2 linked regions of the Homo sapiens genome follow. The protein of the gene in region 2 binds, or shares a complex with, the protein of the main gene of each other region. Each region holds a gene or a part of one and is shown on either strand. Other genes may lie near its edges. A codon is read from its position in the direction of its gene.

Evidence for each region.
Region 1: the proteins of CDK5R1 (region 2) and CDK5 are in contact, whole or in part, in a crystal structure (PDB 3O0G), measured with the Homo sapiens proteins. Residues at the interface, in NP_003876.1 of Homo sapiens: Trp190 (codon at 1,805), Gln193 (codon at 1,796), Thr197 (codon at 1,784), Pro198 (codon at 1,781), Ala199 (codon at 1,778), Phe203 (codon at 1,766), Tyr231 (codon at 1,682), Leu232 (codon at 1,679), Ser235 (codon at 1,670), Tyr236 (codon at 1,667), Met237 (codon at 1,664), Gly238 (codon at 1,661), Asn239 (codon at 1,658), Glu240 (codon at 1,655), Ile241 (codon at 1,652), Ser242 (codon at 1,649), Tyr243 (codon at 1,646), Pro244 (codon at 1,643), Leu245 (codon at 1,640), Lys254 (codon at 1,613), Glu255 (codon at 1,610), Trp258 (codon at 1,601), Asp259 (codon at 1,598), Cys261 (codon at 1,592), Leu262 (codon at 1,589), Ile265 (codon at 1,580), Asn266 (codon at 1,577), Ser269 (codon at 1,568), Ser270 (codon at 1,565), Met272 (codon at 1,559); in NP_004926.1 of Homo sapiens: Leu37 (codon at 4,982), Asp38 (codon at 4,979), Glu42 (codon at 4,967), Gly43 (codon at 4,868), Pro45 (codon at 4,862), Ser46 (codon at 4,859), Ser47 (codon at 4,856), Leu49 (codon at 4,850), Arg50 (codon at 4,847), Ile52 (codon at 4,841), Cys53 (codon at 4,838), Leu54 (codon at 4,835), Lys56 (codon at 4,829), Glu57 (codon at 4,826), Val69 (codon at 4,679), His71 (codon at 4,673), Leu76 (codon at 4,658), Arg120 (codon at 3,696), Asn121 (codon at 3,693), Val122 (codon at 3,690), Leu147 (codon at 3,469), Arg149 (codon at 3,463), Ala150 (codon at 3,460), Phe151 (codon at 3,457), Gly152 (codon at 3,454), Ile153 (codon at 3,451), Pro154 (codon at 3,448), Arg156 (codon at 3,442), Cys157 (codon at 3,439), Tyr158 (codon at 3,436).

What each region holds. Positions count from the first base shown.
Region 1 is NC_000007.14:151,052,108-151,062,392, forward strand, and holds CDK5 (cyclin-dependent kinase 5), read right to left. Parts: upstream 5,791-10,285; 5' UTR 5,742-5,790; coding exon 5,705-5,741; intron 5,054-5,704; coding exon 4,965-5,053; intron 4,869-4,964; coding exon 4,801-4,868; intron 4,690-4,800; coding exon 4,629-4,689; intron 4,530-4,628; coding exon 4,473-4,529; intron 3,742-4,472; coding exon 3,646-3,741; intron 3,500-3,645; coding exon 3,425-3,499; intron 3,267-3,424; coding exon 3,170-3,266; intron 2,990-3,169; coding exon 2,920-2,989; intron 2,359-2,919; coding exon 2,298-2,358; intron 2,186-2,297; coding exon 2,105-2,185; intron 1,989-2,104; coding exon 1,902-1,988; 3' UTR 1,708-1,901; downstream 1-1,707. Other genes in the region: ASIC3 (acid-sensing ion channel 3), read left to right, coding at 59-130, 309-367, 447-579; SLC4A2 (anion exchange protein 2), read left to right, coding at 9,881-9,931. UniProt on the Homo sapiens protein: Proline-directed serine/threonine-protein kinase essential for neuronal cell cycle arrest and differentiation and may be involved in apoptotic cell death in neuronal diseases by triggering abortive cell cycle re-entry. Interacts with D1 and D3-type G1 cyclins.
Region 2 is NC_000017.11:32,481,686-32,489,992, reverse strand, and holds the start of CDK5R1 (cyclin-dependent kinase 5 activator 1), read right to left. Parts: upstream 3,001-8,307; 5' UTR 2,831-3,000; intron 2,518-2,830; 5' UTR 2,373-2,517; coding exon 1,449-2,372; 3' UTR 1-1,448. UniProt on the Homo sapiens protein: p35 is a neuron specific activator of CDK5. The complex p35/CDK5 is required for neurite outgrowth and cortical lamination. Involved in dendritic spine morphogenesis by mediating the EFNA1-EPHA4 signaling. Activator of TPKII.

The sequences.
Region 1 (10,285 bases), on a different chromosome or scaffold from region 2:
GCCCCTAGGATGAGGGGGAAGGTGTGCACTGGCCACCTCCCATCCTGCTTGCCTCCAGGTGTTCCGAGACAAGGTCCTGGGATATTTCTGGAACCGACAGCACTCCCAAAGGCACTCCAGCACCAATCTGGTAACAGCCCCTCTTCTGGAGCCCTTGCCTGCTCCAAGGGTGCTAGGGCCCACCCCTGAAGCCTAGACCACCATCCCGCCCCAGCTGAGGAGAAACAGGCAGGAGGGTGTGCAGTGACCTCGACTGGTCCCTGGGAGGAGGACCACTCCCCACCTCTGACCCTCTCGTCCTCACACAGCTTCAGGAAGGGCTGGGCAGCCATCGAACCCAAGTTCCCCACCTCAGCCTGGGCCCCAGGTAACACATAATGGCCCCCTAAAATCAAGGGAGGGCAGGGGCAGGCTCAGGACAGTGGGTGTGCCCGTTCCCACCCCAGCACTCTGCTCTGTTCCGAAGACCTCCCACCCCTCCCTGTGCCGTCACCAAGACTCTCTCCGCCTCCCACCGCACCTGCTACCTTGTCACACAGCTCTAGACCTGCTGTCTGTGTCCTCGGAGCCCCGCCCTGACATCCTGGACATGCCTAGCCTGCACGTAGCTTTTCCGTCTTCACCCCAAATAAAGTCCTAATGCATCAGCCTCAGCTGTTTCTCTTACAGGGCAGAGACTAGCCAAGCCAAGGTCAGCCCAACTTAGGCATTGGAAGTCTTCTGCCAGCCATCATCCAGCTGGACGTGGCTTCTGAAATGTGGAGCTGGGCCCTTGAACCCCCATGAATCTCTAGGGGAGAATGGTAGCAAGAGGTTATCAGTCATTTGCACCTCAGTGTGAGTGAGTTTAGCCGACTGACATCTTAGAGAGAAGGGAGGACAGGTATCCTCCAAGCCCGGGTTAGGTGTGAGGTGCAGAATCACAGTCAGCAATAAAGGTATAACTGGAAGAAAACTCTGCCCAGAGCTCAGCAAGAAGAGGCAGGGAGAAGACGGGGTGACTCCACTTTCAAGAACACCTGTGTCCTGCCTTACATCCTGACTCCTTTCCCACATTTGGGACCAAGTGCGGCACACAGCCTGTCTCCATACAAACAAGTTCTGCCTCCTCAGCCTCCCCACAAGAGCTAAAGGCCCCAGGCTTGAGACGGTGGGGGTGGGGGTGGGGGTAGGCGGAGCCCTCCCTTCCTCTTCCTGCCAGTAAGGACACACCAGGCCCCAGCCACAGGCCCAACTTCCCTCTCTTTCACTGGACCCCAAACATTGGGAAACTGACAAATAGGGAGTGGGAGGGGGTGTTCCTGATGGAACCATATCTTTGGGGCTCTCCTGTGCCAGCCTGCAGGCCTTGGTATGGGGGGGATGATGAGGGAAAGGACAAGAGGATCCACCTGAGATATGGAGAACCACAAGGAGAGGCCCAGCCCTTTCCTCTCCACCCTGGTGGGGAGCCCATCCTTGCTCCCCTCACTCTGAGGGACCACATCAGGCCCTCCTGGGCAGAGGAAGGGAGGGTGGGAGGAAGGGGTGTGCAGCGACAGTGCTGCCCTGCCCCAGGGGTGAGGGGTGAGGGTCATGGCCTCTTAAAGTAGAAGAGCAAGGTGCTGTCTTTGAGCCAGAAGCAGGATTGCGGCCGGCAGTAACAGACCAGAGACACCTCCAGCCCATGGGCCCTGTAGAGCCACTTGACCACCACATCAACCAGACTGTGGGAAAGGAGCCAATTTATGAAATTAAATAAAGTCCACAAAGGGAGTGAGAAATTCGGGCTCAGGCACCCCACCCCGGCTGGGCCCAGCACTGCTGGAGCACAGCGCACCAGGCACCCCCACTGTCTCACCCCTCTCAAGAGGGGGCTTAAATAGGCCAGGCCCCAGCCTGGAGGCCGGGGGTCCCGGGGCCTAGGGCGGACAGAAGTCGGAGAAGTAGGGGTGCTGCAGGGCCTCTTCTGCTGAGATACGCTGGACAGGGTTACACTTCAGAAGGTTCTGGAGATGGGGGAAAGGAGGTGGCAGGTTCAGGACAGGTCACTGCCCAGAGCCCTGCCTTCCTGTAGTCCCACTGGGCAAGTGTCCTGACCCACCCTCTACCCCTGGTCACCTACCTGCAGCAGATCCCTCCCTGTGGCATTGAGTTTGGGCACGACGTTCACCAGGGATGTTGTGGCCGGGTACATCGGATAGGGCTGTGGAGAGGCAGGGAGGGTCAGACTAGAGGTAGGGGGAGGGGGATGGAGGCGCTAGGAATGTGAAACGAGTGACCCTGATGAACCATGACCCCCACATTCCCCATCACACCTTATAGTCTGGCAGCTTGGTCATAGAGGGCCACTGCTCCTCGGTGGGCGTCCCCAGCAGTGTGTCCACGGAGTCAAGGATCACTTGGGAAAGGGCCACAGCTGCATCTTCAGGGGCAGGGTGAGGGCCTCTTCCCCTCCTGGGGAGGGATTCCTCATACCCACCGCCCACTTCTCACCCTCCCTTTACCCTCCGGCTTGAGCTTGACAGAAGCAGCCCCAGGCAGGTCACTCGCATATCCAGCCACGTTTCCCATGACAATCACCTAACCCACATGCTGCTGTCCTAGTCCTAATGAAACAGTCCTTGCCCTGCTCCCACAAAATGTGTCCTGTTCTCTTTGGCTCCTTCATCCTGGCATCCATCTCTCACCTGGAGGGACACCCTCTCGGCTTCACCCCTCAGGGCACGCTGCCTGTCTCCAAGCCACACCTTCTCCAGTGTGCATTTGCACTGTGACAATCAGGGTGTCCAGCACCCCTGCTCTCTCCCCTTGCCCTCAGGAGAAGCCCTACAGACCCCATCACCCTACCCCACACCATCACTGCCCTCACCCATTGTGCTCAAAACTCCATGGACTCTCCCCTCCCAGAGGGCTCAAGGCAGAGGAAAGCAAGGATATCGGAAGATCCTCTTCAACTGGTCATCGACATCATTGCCGGGAAAAAGAGGCCGCCCAGCATTGGCCAGCTCTGGGGGATAGACAGGGGGCTAAGATGTGACATGTGAAGGACCCCTCACTCTGAGGTACCCCCTGACCTTCCAGCTCCAGTCCCAGGGCCTCCCTCCCTTCCCCCAGAGGGGACCCTCCAGACCCTATTTGTCAACTCAAATGGGAAAGAAGGTGCCTCTGCAACACCCCAGCACATCACCTGCAAAGATGCAGCCGGCTGACCACATGTCGATGGACGTGGAGTACAGCTTGGCCCCAAAGAGGACATCCGGTGGGCGGTACCACAGTGTGACCACCTGGAGGAGACCCCCCCCGAAAGGGACCTCCCACTTAGAGGACTGGGGAGGAGGTTTGAGGAGGAGGCTCAGAGAGGAGAGGAAAATAATGTTTTGGGTCCTGGGGTTGGAGCTGAGGGACTCCCTCCCCCAATCCCATATCCCATCTTCTAGCTCACCTCAGCTGAGTAACAGCGGACGGGAATCCCAAAGGCTCGAGCCAGGCCAAAATCAGCCAATTTCAGCTCCCCATTCTGAAGGGAATGGGAAGGGGACATGGAGAAGGGCCTTTAAAAAGCCTTGGGACAGCACCAACTCCATCCTCCCAGTCCTCTTCCCTCTGTGCTCCCCGTGCCCTGGCCCCAGCCTCTCCATTCCCCACCTTCTTCCCAAGAAGTACCCTGTTTATTAGCAGGTTCTGGGGCTTCAGGTCCCTGTGTAGCACATTGCGGCTATGACAGAATCCCAGCCCTTTTAGTAGCTGGAAGAGGAATGACTGGGAGGAGAGAGGGAGAAGGGAGTCAGACGCCCTGAACATGCAACTGTGCCCAGCAACGGGTCGGCTCCTCTCCTCACCCTGTGCTTCGCTCCACCCCACCCACCTTTCAGCACCTGGTTCAGAGTGACACCATTCATTCGCCATCCAGGACCTGCTTTATACTGTGCTAGGCATTAGAGGGACCAAAGTAAAGAAGCTGGCTCTGGTCCCCACCTTCCTGGACCATACAGCCTAATGGGCCTTGGCAGGTGGATCCTAGATCCGGCCTAGATCCCAGCCCATGCTGATCTTCCCTTCCTGGCCGCATCTGAGTATGCACGCCGTGAACATCAACATAAATATCGTGCTGTAGTATCATTCAGGACTGGCTCCCCTGGAACCTGGACCAAGGCATTTGGTCTTGGGCCTAGAAAAGCACCTGGCACACAGTGAAGCATTCAGTAAGTATGTGTTGAATGAATGAGTGTATCTCCTTGAACCTCATTTTCTCATCTCTCGAGTGTAAATAATATCACTGACATCAGAATGACACTGTGCGGGTCAAAGATGACCACGTGAAAATGCTCACTAAGACTGGAGACCCCTGGAGGACAGAAACAGGGTTTTCTCATTCTCTAACACCCTAGAGTGTCCCTGTTCAGGGCCCAAACTTAGAGCCCAAGGGGTGCTTACACCGAATGCAGACTCCGACCCCAGCCTGAGGGGTCCCCCAACACCACTCTCCTCACCTTTACAATCTCAGGATCGAGGTCACCATTGCAACTGTCAAAATACTTCTTCAGGTCCTGAAAAGGGATATGAGTGGGGGAATGGGACAGAGTTTAACCTCAATCTGGGCCCCTATACCTTCCCAAGGCTACTGTCCTCCAAACCCCGCCTTTCACCTGGTCACAGAATTCAAAAACCAAAGTCAGCTTCTTGTCGCTGTGCAGGACGTCATGAAGCCTAGGGCAAAAGAAGGGCTCAGCCAGGCAGGTCCGCCTGACAGACGTCCAGTGTCAGCCCCCGCCTCCCCCAAGCGGCCACACCGGCAAGGAGCACCCGCCTCCCGCACACCTGACGATGTTCTTGTGCTTCAGCTCCTTGAGTAGGCAGATCTCCCGGAGGGCGGAACTCGGCACACCCTGCATATGTGAGGGGGCCGGTGGGCAGCAGTCAGATCCCACCCAGCCCAGGCCCTCAAACCCCTCCCCAGGCCGTATCCCACTCCCCAGTCCTACCTCATCATCGTCATCCAGCCTCACCCGTTTCAGAGCCACGATCTCATGAGTCTCCCGGTTTTTGGCCTTGAACACAGTTCCGTAGGTGCCTAGGGGAAGGAGGTCAGGGGTCAGGGTGAGGATGCGGCACTCTTCCCTAAGCCAGGAAATGCCTCCTGAGAGAGGTGAAGGCAGCGTCTCAGTATGCAAGGGAAGGGATTCAGGGTGAAGGTAGGTTGGTGAGCTTTGTGAGTGAGGATGTGGCAGGTGGGGAGGGAGGAGAAGGTGCCCACCGAGGCTCCAGGGGCTCGGCAGGAGGGGCGAGTGCGGTTGCCAGGGCAAGGATGTCTAAAATGAAGGCGGTGCTCCGGAAGGGTCTGGAAATAGTGAGGAGGGGTCTGGGAGAGGACTGAGGGGCTGCAGAAATATTGAGGTTGGAGGTCTGCAGCAAGAAACGAGGCTGGGGGTCGGGGTGAGGTTGTCCAAGTGCTGCTGAGGCTGGGGTGAGAAATTTCAGGAAGTGTCGCGGTTGGGAGGTCGGGTCTACTGGGAACGCTAAGGTTGGAGTGAGAGCCCTGCGGGAAATGCTAACACGGGGAAGACTGGTGTCTGCACGGAGTGCTGAGCTAGGGGGCCAGGGCTGCAGCCGCTGCTGAGATCGGAGCCTGTAGGCATTGCTGACGGTAAGGGAGCCAGGGCTTCAAGGAATGCCGAAGGATCTGCAGAGGAGCTCTTGCAGGAACATCTCGAGATTCCATTACCTTCCCCAATCTTTTCCAGTTTCTCGTATTTCTGCATCGCGGCGGCCGCGGGGACCCCTGCGGGCCCTCGGTTTTAAGACTCTGGCCCCGGCGTTGCAGAGGAGGCGGCACCTGAGCCTCCAGCCCCGCCCCGTCTGCCCGCGCAGGGCCTTCTGGGGCTTGTAGTCCTAAAACGACTAGGTCTCCCCGCAATGCCCGAGACCGAGGACAAGAAGACTACAACCCCCAGCCGTCTGCGCTCACGCTCTCTGCAGCACTCGACTCCAGGGCTCCGTTTCTACCGCGGAGGCAAACCTTGGACTTCAAGTCCCAGGAAGCAACGCGTGTCCGTTTTCCGGGCGCCCCGCCGCGGCGCCGTGGTTCCCAGTGTGCCCCGCTGTTGTTATTCCTTTTATGTGCTCCCAGCCCTCTTGAAAAGGGCCGCTCCGGGACTACGCGTTCCAGAATGCAGCGGAAATGGGGGCGGAGCGCTCTCGGTTAGGGGTTTGGGGTTTGGCGGCCTAGATCCCGGGCACTGGCGGCCCAGCGCTGACCTGGTTGGTGGCATTGTGTTCCCAACGGCCTCTTGACGACCTCAGCACGGGTTTCCACCTCTCCCCAAGCCACCTAGTGACCCCAGAATTGACTGGGGAATGCCTGTGAGCGATGATGACCTCACAGGGAACAGCTGACCGCAGGGCTGGGAGAACAGCTGTGCCCCTTCGAGGCTGGATTTTAGTGGAGGGACACACGCCAAAGACCCCCTCTCTGCTGAGCCCCGTTTGTTGTCTCGGAGCCCACCCGACTCTAGCCGCTGAACTCTGACATGCTGAGGAAAACTGGGTGGAGCCCTGGGGGTCCCCCTCAGACCCCAGTCTCCGGAACAGGGCCCACTGGAGTCAGCCAGGGTGTGGCAGGCAGGTTGGTTAACCCCCTCCACAGACAAGACCACAGACCGATGCTCAACTTGCAGCAGCCTCTGCCTCACCCCTTAAAGGAGCTGATTATAGATTCCCTTACGCTGCCTCTCTAATTGTCTCATGATTGCATTCTTGAGGGCTATGGACCGAGGGAAAAGGATCCCAAACAGCACTCCTCAGCACCGGAACCAGAGTTGCTGCTAAACACGTGTTAATTAACTCGTTTCTATCTGAATGCTTTTGCATACACAAGGGAAAAGAAGCAAAAAGTGTATTCCTTATCTGGAAGACTTTGTGATTTCGTTGGGCAAAAAAGAACTACACACAAAGGTCTTGAATGATAAGTGATGGCTCTGCCTAGGGTTCGGTTCAGTGTGGAGGTTCCATTCAAGAGGAAGGAGGCCAGCACAGCGAATCTCTGTCCCTCTCTGGAAGTGGAGAGCCTCTAACAAGTTACCCTCTCCCAGATCAGCTCAGGGTACCGGGCGGCCAGCCTCCAGCCCCTGTCACCCTTCTCACCCACTCGCCACCCGTCCCTCAGGGGCTTTCTTGGAGGCACGGGGGTTATTGAGGGGGGCAAGAGAATCTCAACCCCGATACGTTTATGTTTCGACTTCCCCGAATTTCCTTGTGCCTGCGTTTTGCTGCCTGGGATCCCTAGCGTGAGAAGGGCTCCTTTACACTCAGAGGTGCCGTAATGGAGCCAAGGGACGGCATCCTCGGGGCTCCCGAGCCCCGAGTGGAGAAGCTTGGGGCAGAGGGACGGCGGGGGCGGCCCCTGGTGCCGGGCTGTGCCTGGAAGCGCGCCCCCGCCCCGGCCCCCGCTCCCGCCTCCCCACCCGCGAAGGCGGGACCGCGCACGGTGCGCCGGGGGGCGCGCACGCAGGGGGCTGGCCTGCCCGCGGCGCGGGGGAAAGTTGAGTTGGGAGAAGTTGGGAGCGGCGGGGGCGCGCCCCGGGGTGGGCACGGGGCAGTCGTCGGGAGCGCGCGAGTGCGCCGGAGGACGGGGAGAGACCCCGAGACCCCCGGGGCACGAAGTCCAGAGCGAGCGGGTAGGCGGAGAGGTGGTGGCGGGGGACGGCCAGGGCCGCAGAGGGAGGAAGGGAGGGGGAAGGAGAGGGGGGAACTCGGGACTCGAGCGGGGAGGGAGTGGAAGTGGAGGAAAGGGCGGAGACTGGGGCGCGGGGAACCGCGGTCTTGGGGAGAAGGATGGGGAGGCGGATGGAGTGCTGGTCGGAAGCGGGCATTCCGGGGTCCCCTTCTCAGAGTTCCCTAAAGCCAGGGTGCCGCGCCCCCTGCCACCAGGAGGGGGTAGTCTCCCCGAGGCGCCGCCGGCCCTCCCACTCCCCGGCTGGCTCCAGACCACCCCTCCCCTCCGGCCCCCCCGCATAGTCCTTCAGTCCCGTCCGGGGCGCCCAGACTGGGGGTTGCCCGGGGCCCCCATCCCCAATCTCCGGGTTGAGAGGCGAAGCCAGGAAAGGCGGGTGGCGGGTAAGGTCGGACAAGGGGTCAGACAGAAGAGGGAGCAGCTGGGTGGGAATGGGAAAGATGAGCCCGGAGAGTTGGACCTGACTCCCGGGGTCGGTTTGTCCAGGCGGGAAGTTCTGTGCTGGGTGTGAGAGGCGGCACTGCCTGAAACCCAGGGTCTACTTTATCCCCCTTCGTTTCCCCCGCCAGCCCCACATGGAAGAGCTGCGGAATTTACGAGTTCACTTGGGGGGTGGTTAATGCCCAAGTGGGGGTCCGAGGTGCTAATCCCTTGGTCAAGGGGAGAGATACTAATCCTCTGGGCCGGTCGGGGCTGGTCCCGGGAATGTGCCCCTACCCGGATTATCGGCACCGATGCTCTGGACAGAAGCTGCTTTGTGTTCTGGGACAGCAGGGGAGGGGGTGCAGAGGAGTGTGGAGGAGCGCGACGAGGGCACAGCCTGAGGTGGGAGTGGGCGCCTGCAGGTGCTCTGGGCGGACTCTCCCCACACCCTTCCCAGACTGGGTGCACTCACGCTCACCCACACCACCCGCCCTGGCTGAAGGCCTGCTGAGGGGGAGGGGAAGAGCGTGGTTAGCCAAGTTGGAGTGCTTGCCAAGAATGTGTTGCCAGGCTCCCCATCCTGGGTGACCCCCCCAGACCTATATTGTTTGACGCTACACTGACTTGTCTTACTCCTAAGTCAGGCACCCCCAGTCCCCAGCAACACACTGGGAGCATGGGTTGTTGGGTACCGTCACTTTTTGCCAGTCTTGGGTGCCCCCTGTGCTGACCCGCTAGGAATGCGCCCCCTATTTGCAGGGATTGGGCTCCCTCCTGCAGCTCCTTCTCTGCCCCCACCACACAGTGTCCTCCCCAGACTCCCTACAGTCACAGTCAGGAGGGTGGCAGCACTGCCACTCAGATTTTCCTGGCTCCAGGCTCTAGAGGGGCGGGATCCAGACTGCCCCTCAGAGGCAGAACCTCAAGGTTGCGGTGCCCACCCCCTCCCAGCCCATCACATGCCCCTCCCCCATTATAAAGCTCTGCCCAGCCCATGCCCACCTTCTGTGCCTTCCTCTCTCTCAGTGAGTGAGTGGAGTTGAGCTCCTGCCCTCCACCCAGCCAGCCTGCTTCCCTCCTGCCGGTCCCCAAGGACCTGGGGGAGGGAAGCCTCCTGCCGGCCTGTACTGGGGAGGGGGCACCCCCTCCCTGCAGGGGCATCTTGGGCTCTCTCCAGAGTTCTTCCATTCGTCTGCTTCCTGTCTCGGCAGCCCGGCCCCGGCTCCACGGGGTGTCTCACCCTCCCCACCACACCCTCTCTGGTCTCAGGCCCACCTCTGGTGGGTGCCCTGACCCTGCGAGGCTCCGTTGTCTGCCTGGGCCTTCACTCCCCTCTTTCCCCAGCTCATTATCACTCCCTCCCTCATCTTTGTTGCTTTCTCTCCGGGCCTGGGCCTTGACTCCTTTCTCCCTCATTTTTCTTGCGGCCTTTCCCACCTCCTCTCTCCTCCTCCCTCTACTCAGCCTCTCGGCCCTTTTCGGCCCCCCTCGCCTCAGTCCTCTCCTGTCTCCTTGTTCTTCTCTTTTCTTCCTATAAATAACTCTCCTCTGTGCTGTGGCTGCCGCTAAGGGCCACTCTGAGGCCCTTCATACTCCAGGAGGATCCCCAGCAGCGCAGCCTGCGCGTGGTGGCTCCTGCCCTCCCAGGGCTCTCGATGGTGATCAGGCCTCTCCCCCATCCAGGTTATGCCTCCGCCTCGTTGCCCTGAAAGCCGCAGCGACAGCGAAAAGGGCTAAGATTCGGCCATGAGCAGCGCCCCTCGGCGCCCCGCCAAGGGCGCAGATTCTTTCTGTACGGTGAGTGTGGCCCCCAGGTCGCCAGCCCAACCTTCCCTCCCTGGGCAGCCTTGGGTGCTCCGGCCAAGGGTCCTCGCCAACCAGGGGTGTGAGCGTGTGTGAGTGTGGAGACTGGGAGGATGCTGCCATCCCTACCCTGACTTTGCATGATGGTCGTAGGGGGGGATGGGTAGTGGGGGTATCAGACGTCTTCCAGTCCTGGGGAGGGAGTTGAGGCTGTTACCTGAAGACCTAGGTAGCTTAGCCTCAGCGGTTGAGGAACTTTGAGAACCCTGGGTCTCTCACCCAGCAACCCGTCTCAGACCCGGCTGGCCTTAGAGGCGCAGGTCAAGTCTGCACGCGGGCCAGGGTTCT
Region 2 (8,307 bases):
TGCTGAAATCGGTAGCCACCTCGAACTTAATCCTATGTAAAGTGACCCTCTGCCTCCCCACCCCAGGTCCCCATTCCAGCACTCCCCAGTGGACTGGGCCTGGAAGACAGAATCCTCTGTAGTGTCTTCACATTGGTCTTTGTTCTCCACAGCCGAGTGATGGGCCATGGAGGAAGGCTTGCTCCCTCTCCCAAGTCCCAAGCCACCAATGCGGGAGAATTAGAAAGAAAATCAATAAAGTACACATTTGTGTTTTTACAGCCAGTAGGGTAAGGTGGAAACCAAAACCAGCAGCTGCAAATGATCAGTTGTAGAAATCAGCAGGCTTCCAGAGCAATCAGGAGTCTCACTCCCCGTCTTGTAATTGTCTCCAAGATCCGGCTGTCTCACTGGTCCTTGCTGGGCAAGGCTTCCTCTTTAGAAGAAACTCAACTGTTTAGAAACAGCTTTAAATTAACGGGTGGGGGTGGGGTCACCACATCGCCTTCCCCCCAGCTCTGCAGGACAAATGTCATGTGCACCAGCAAGAGGCCTTAGCCCTTAGGTGGGCACCGGCTTGGTCTCAAGGTATGGCATCCCTCACCTTGCCCAGAAGGCAGGCGTTGCTAATGGGCACCTGCAGCTGTCCTGGCATTTGCCACAGGGTGACTGCACTACATTATTCAAAAGAAAAACTCACCCAGGAAAGCTGTCCCCAGCTTCACCCCACCTCTTTAGCTGGGACCCAAATTGAGAGAAATTAATGAGTCAAACCAGCTCATCGGCCAATACCACCAACGTGGCTGGGAGCAGCAGACAAGGGGGTAGGGGGGCGAGTTCCATTTCTCCACTAAAGAAAAGCCCTTCTCCCTAAAAAAAGAAAACAGCAAATCAGGGCGGTGTGTGGTCAAACGACCAGACACAATCTTTCCACTAGACCCGCTCAGCTTCGCCTCGCCTAGATTGAAGATGTCCCCGGGTGGCGGGGATCTTGCCTCACGACCCCACTGGCAGCTCAGTTAGGGTGGCTGGCTCCAGGAGCCTCTGGGAGAGTGAATAACTCCACACAGGAGCCAGAAAAGGGCCTCCAACCAGAAACCCCAATTCCTCCCTGGGCCAGGCAGCCAGAGGCCCCTCTCTAGCTCCATACAGGGTGCAGCCGGCAGCCTTGCCTACCCTGGACCCAGCAAGGGCACAGGCGGCAGGGGCAGGTCAGTCCTTTGAGTTCCCCAAAGTGGGAGGTCAGTGGCCTGGGTGGCTCTGAATACATCTTCTGGGTTTTGCGCAAGGCTCGTGAGTTCAAAAGTGCCCAGAGTTCTTGGCAGGGATGAAAAAAACCCCAGGGAGAGACTGTGGGAAAGGTGAGGCCCTTGGTGGCTTTGCTAGACACATACTGTACACAAAACTGATTTAATAATAAATTCTTAAAAATGCATTGAATCCTTGAGCCATGACGCAGGCTACAGTGCTCACCGATCCAGGCCTAGGAGGAGCCGCTTCTTGTCCTCCTGGCCGCTCTCGTTCTTCAGGTCGGAGAAGACCTGTGTGAAGTAGTGTGGGTCGGCATTTATCTGCAGCATCTTTGAGCTCATGAGGTTGATGACAGAGAGGCAACGGTCCCAAAAGGCCTCCTTGCAGCTCTCCACCAGGAAGGGCTTGAGCGGGTAGGAGATCTCGTTGCCCATGTAGGAGTAGGAGAGGTACAGGCATGTCAGCAGGACGGCCTGGAGCTCGTGATCCGAGCCCACCTCGGAGGAGATAACATCCCTGCAGAGCATGTAGAGGAAGACCACGTTGGCCGGCGTGATGAAGCCCTGGTCCTGCCAGCCCTGCAGAAGCAGCGAGCGGTCCACGCTGCGCAGCCAGAGCACGGGGTCCGTGGGGGACAGGTGCTTCAGGCGGTAGCACCGGCGGCAGAGAAACTCACCCAGGCAGCGAAGCAGCTCACTGGTGGACGCCTGGACGATGACCCGTTTGGGCGTCCCTGCGGAGGTGACGGCAGGGTGAGGGGCTTTCTTGACTGAGGAGGAGCCCCCGGTCTGGGAACCCGAGAGCTGGCTGGCCGGGGGTGCAGGCGGCTGGGCCGGTGGGGGCTGGGCGAATGTGGACAGGTTGGCGCACGACAGCGACTTCTTCAGGTTCTCATTGTTGAGGTGCGTGATGTTGTTCTGGTAGCTGCTGTTGGGCTGCACCTTCTTGGAGTTCTTCTTCTTGGCCGACACGGCCACGATTCTCTTCCAAGGCAGCACGGAGATGATGGAGTGGCGCTTCAGGTTCTTGTCCTTGGCGTTCTTGCTGTTCTGTACGGCCGTATAGTGGCCCACGGTGGCCGCGCCATCCTCAAACAGCGTGGCCTTCCGGTAGCTGGGAGACAGGGACAGCACCGTGCCCATGGTGCTGCTGCGCGCCGGGCGGGGGCTCGCGCCCCTGCGCGCCCAGCCTGCCGGCCGGAGGGATAAAACCGCTCACCGAGCCTGCGGCGGCCCCGGAGAGGAGGCGGGGGCGCTCCCGGGAAGCGTGCTGCCCCCTTGGATCTGCCTGGAAAACAAGATGGTTCTTAGCGCCAGGCTGGGCTCCGCGCCGCGCCCCTGCGCCCCTGCGCCCCTCCGCCCCGCGCCTCGGCGCACCCCGCCGCCCCAGTCCCGGGCCCTACCCGCGCCCCCGCGACGCAGCCTCGCCGCCTCCACTGCAGCACCCCCGCCCGCCGCCGCCGCTGCGGTCCCCAGGCGCAGCCGGGAGGGGCCCGGTCGCCGACGGAGGCGGCCGAGGACCCCCGCCTGGACACCCCGCACGGGCGCGACCCCGGTCTCCGCTCCCCAGGGCCAAGGACGGCCGCCCAGCGCAGGCTTACCCGGCAGGCGGCAGCTCCTGCGCTCCGCGCCCTCCGCAATGCGCGCCGCGGCCCCGCCGCCGCGGTCCCGGCGCTCGGCGGCGCTCGGGGGCGCTCGGCGGGGATCGGCTGGGCTCGCGCTCGGCGGCGGCGACGGCGGCGGCGGCGGCGGCGGCAGCTAGGGAGCTTCTGTCCAAGGTTCTGCAGGCACCGCAGCCCCGCCCCCCGCTCGGCCGCCCGCACCTTCGCCGCCGCCGCCGCGCTCCCGCTCCCGCTCCCGCTTCCGGCGCGCGCCTCAGCGCCCTCCCTCGCGGGGCGCGCGCGCCGTCCACGCTCCGGCCTGGTCTCGCCGGGGAGTCGCGGCCGTTGGTGTCCTCAGCTCGAGCCGCGCACGGTGCGGGTAGGACGCGGCAACGAGCGGGAGGCACCTCTACGCGCCGGGCCCCATCTAGGAGCCGGACTCCGCGGCTGCGGCGGGACACGCGGCGTCGGCCCGCCCCGCCCCTCGGGGCCGCCCCTCCCGCACAGCTCGCCGCCCGCTCCGCGCCGCCGCCCAACAGCAGCCCGGCCGCCGGAGAGTCCTCGGCGCCCGCGCAACCCAACTCTGCCGACGCGGGGCGGGCGCCGAGCAGGGCGGAGCCGAGGGCCGACCCCGCCCGCGTCCCGCCCAGACACGTGCTGCCTTTGTTCCCGCCGCGGCGCCCGCAGCTGCCGGCCGCGGGGGCACTCTCGGCCGAGTCCCTGCCCTGGCAGCGCGCGGCCCGCCCTCTCTGAGGCTGCCGCCCTGGCCTGGTGAGGAGCCCTCCGCCGAGGCCAGGGTCCGGAGCTCCCTCCTTCCACCTGACATCCCCGTCCCTGTGGAAAGCAGCCAGGGAGCGCGGGGAAGAAGGCCCTGGGCGGGGAGAGGCGACGCCTTTACTGAGGCCTCCCGAGTGCCACGCGCACCTCGAGTGGACAGTCCAATCGGTTCTGGCCACCCCTCCGGGGCCTCCGTTCCCTCATCATGGGTAGATGACCGCGGCCGAAGTGGGCCTCAGAGATCCAAGCCAGAGAAGCGTGGCCCGTAGCCAAGCCTGAGCCCGTCACAAATATGACCTCTAAGTTCCCACTCGCCCTCTTATTTGTCATATTAAAGCTGAAGCAACTGCCCCTCCGGCCAGCTTTCTGACCCTCTTAAACGTTTTCAATTCTAAGTATGTATAATTTGAGAACTTGATGCTAGCGAAATTGAGTAAAATTCTGTTTCTGAAAGCTGTTCCTGTCAGATGTGAATCCAGATCCTTCACAAAGGCTGTTGTTCATTTACTATTTTACCTTGTTTCTGGAGATCGAGTCAAAACTGACCACAAACCTGGGAAACAGGAAACTTAAGCCCTGTCTTAATCCAGATTATCTCTGGACCTAGAGATGAGGGAGTGGCTCTCCAGAGGAGAGGATGCCACCCAGTTACCTGACCACTCCAGCCGACTAGGCTTTCACCAGCCCTGTCAACTGTCCTAGGGGGAACAGAAAGGGAATCTGGCATCATTCAAAATGGTGCAATCAAGGCAGAAAGTGCTGGGTTTTGTTTATGTGCCACTCAGATTTCTGTCAATAGGAATTCCAGGCTTTAGGAACCTTGGGGGGCAAGGCATACAGTGGAAAATGCATTGCTCTGTACCCAGAGGGCTACTTTGTCCACAGCCTTTCAGAACATCCACAACAGCTGTTATGGGAACTCAGAAGAGGAAGGCAGGCCCCCAGCTCAGTGCGCCCCTCCCTGTGAATGTTCCTCAGTGTACAAGCCTACCTGCTCTTCAAATGGAGCTGTCCTCAACCCTCCTGCATGTAACAGTAAGAAGCCAGAAGAGGCCGACGCAGTGGCTCATGCTTGTAATCCCAGTATTTTGGGAGGCCGAGGCGGGTGGATCACCTGAGGTCAGGAGTTCGAGACCAGCCTAGCCAACATGGTGAAACCCCGTCTCTACTAAAAATACAAAAAAAATTAGCCAGGCGTGGTGGCAGGCACCTGTAATCTCAGCTACTCAGGAGGCTGAGGCAGGAGAATCGCTTGAACCTGGGAGACAGAGGTTGCAGTGGGCCGAGATTGCACCATTGCACTCCAGCCTGGGCAACAAGAGCGAAACTCCATCTCAAAAAAAAAAAAAAAAAAAAAAAAAAAGCCAGAAGAAACGATTTGCTTCGAGACCCTGACCAAGTGTCCCTTTTCCTTCTCAAAGGAAAGCCGAACCCCAGCCTCTTTTCCTCAGCCCTTACTTGGAGCCTCTAGCTCCTGAGTTGGCTCTGTGCCCCCCTTCAGATTCTAGTGTTGAGCCAAGGTTAAATGTTTTCCACTTCCCAAAATATGTCCAAATTTTGAAGCCTATAATCCACCCCGGCCAGGCGTGATGGCCACACTGTGTCCAGCAGTTTCAGAGGCCAAGGCGGGCGGATCACCTGAGGTCAGGAGTTTGAGACCAGCCTGGCCAACATGGTGAAACCCGTCTCTACTAAAAAAATTAGCTGGGCGTGGTGGCGGGTGCCTATAATCCCAGCTACTCGGGAGGCTGAGGCAGGAGAATAGCTTGAACCCGGGAGGCAGAGGTTGCAGTGAGCTGAGATTGTGCCACTGCATTCCAGCCTGGGTGACAGAGTGACACTTCGGCTAAAAAAAGAAAAATCCACCCCCTAGAAAAACCTGGGCCCACTCTGTTACCTTTAACTCTCAATCTCAATTCTAGCTATTCCAATTCACGGGGAGGCGGACCAAGCTCACCCCACTACCCTGCTTCCCACTCTGCAGCAGCATGCCTCTGCATGGGCCTTTTCAAGCCAGGCCATACCCTGTGTCTTCTCACCTTTGTCCAGCCAGCCTTTCCCTAGCACCTTCAAACAGAGCTCTCGGCAGAACACCAGCCTCCTCACACTTGCCCAAGGCAAAGTCACAGTTGCAGCACAGCAGGAATGGGATGGCACTGGCAGCCCACTTGCTGCTGCGACTAAGGGAGGGGTCTCCAGGAGCTCCTATCACCCAGGCCATGCCTGTTATGCTGGTTTTCAGACACCACAGAGCTCCTCTTTTCATTCAACCCACCACCACCTCCCCACCCCCAGTTCCTATCACTGCTCCAACTGGAAGCAAGGAAGAAAGGACAGTCAACTGCCAGAAATGGCAGAACCAAGGACCCAGAAGGCAGACCCAGTTGAATGAGGCAGAGCTGTTTTCTTCCTAGCTGCCTTCATCATAGAACTGCAGGGAAGATTTCCAAATCCCACCCCCATCAATCAGCCTACTTAGCCTATTGCCTATCTCTAGCTGCCTGAAGGGCCAGCCTGCTTGTTAGCTTCCCTGCTGGGCTGGGCTGCCCGTGGACTGCCGGAGAGTCCACTCTTCCTGCATGCCCCACTTCCCATAGCATCCCGAGGGAGGGAGGTCAAGGCGGGGGCCAGCTACAGCTTCCAAGAAGGGTTCCAAATAGAGCAGGCCTGAGCCCTTACTCCTGAGGAAGTCGGCTTTGTTCTTTCAGGGATCACAGAGCAGCATCTAGTGGCCCTTCTGAGCAGCACAGATTACATAACTAGCACACAGCAGGGGACCAGAGCCTCTGCTCCCAACTCCAGTAGAGTCTCATTAACACACAAGAAAGTCCTGGCACCATGAAGGCTGGAGCCCAGAAGGGAGGTGAGGGAGCCGGGCCCAGGCCAGCCCACCGGCCAGCTGACCTTCCCAGCTGTGCCTGGACTCAGGTCATGAGAGGCCTGGGAGAGGAGGCAGTGACACAACTGCTGGTCCTGGAGGTCTAGAGCTGCGCTGTCCAGATAGAAGCCACATAGGTAACTTTATATTTTCTAGCAGCCACATTACACAAGTAAAAGGGAAACAGGTGAATTTTAATAATATATTTTATTTAACCCAATACCCAAAATATTTCAACACATATATAAAAAAGTTATTGACATATTTTACACTCCTTTTCTTTTGTTATCATACTAAGCCTTCGAAGTCTGGTTTGTGTTTACACTTGCAGTGTATCACAGCTCGAACCAGCCACGTTGCAAGGGCCTGACAGCTGCACATGGCTAGCGGCTACATATTGGACAGCACGGGTCTAGAGGGCATCATCTGACCAAGACCCGCAAAGGGAACTGAGAAAAGGGCTACTGCCTGAGCATCTCAGGACTGCCCTAAGTTTGAGAAAACATCTCCCCTCTACTCCAAAACTAGATCTCTTTGGAGTACTTTTTAAAGTCCTTTATAGAAGCAAAGCTCTTTCTGCAAGTGAAATACAGAGACACAATACTAAAACTGACAATGGCTGAACTGCTCAGACTGAAGAGGATTTAGCAGGTCCCCCAGTGGTCCCAGAGCCCCCCGCCCCCGCCAGGGTGTGAGGCAATATGAAAATCGCTGCCTTTGAAGATTCCAAAAGGAAACGAAACCACAACTGCATGTCAGGACTCTCCAGACACCTGCACGTCTATGACTTACTAAGCTTCACATCACAATCACCTGCCAAGGAAGCAGCATCCTCACTGAGTAGAAGAGAAAGTAGGCTCAGAGGATCTACTGCCCAAACTTACATGTGCTCACTGGACCATGCTGCCCTGGAAGAAGACACCTGAACTCATTTCCAACCTCAGAACTCACACACCAACTTTCTTGCCCCCAAAGCCCTCCAAGTTTGGACCCCAAATTTACCTTAAGGACTCCCATTACACAAATGAGATAACAGCTTTGGCCAGATGAGAGCTAGACTAGTGTGGGGCCACACAGAGCTGTCTGGACTTGCTTGGAAGCCCTCCAGCACTCAAGAAAAAGACACCTTTTGAAAAAAAAAAAAATTATTTTTATTGGAACTCATCTGAACATCAGATATACCTGGTGTTGGTTAGCAAGAACCGTTTGTACATTTGATACTGATGGTGCCAAAACCAAAACAGTGACTAGACATGATGGGGAAAGATGTTGAGAACAAAAACCTGATTTTGGAGAGGAAAATAAAAGCCAGTCAGATTCAGTGAGGATGCAAAACCTGGTACAACAAAATCCTTTTACAAAATATAAATTTATTATGAAAACCTGGAAGGATAATCCAAGGAAGGTAAAGAAAGAGAAAAGGAGGCCAGCAGAAGAAGGCAGGAAGGAGAGGAAAAGAGAAAAAGACAAAGAGGAGATGAGAGAAGAAAATACAGTTCAGCACAACAGAAGTGCAGAAGCTCACCTACCCAAATGGCATTAAAGCCTCGCTGTGTAATCGTGTCAGAAAACAAAGCATACTGACACATAGTGCTCTACTTCCCATCCACTTGAGTTCTAAGAGGTAAATTAAAAAGCTCCCTGGGAAGGGGACATGAGGTTGCTCAAAAACCCAACAAAGAAAATTAAAAAAAAAAGAGAGAGAGAAACCACACCCCACAGTCTCATTTCCGATGTTCATTGTTTAAAAAAGGAATAAATCCATCTGAAAGTAGGAGAGGAGGAGTGGGAGAGGGAGAGAAGCTCATGGCTTTCACAGACA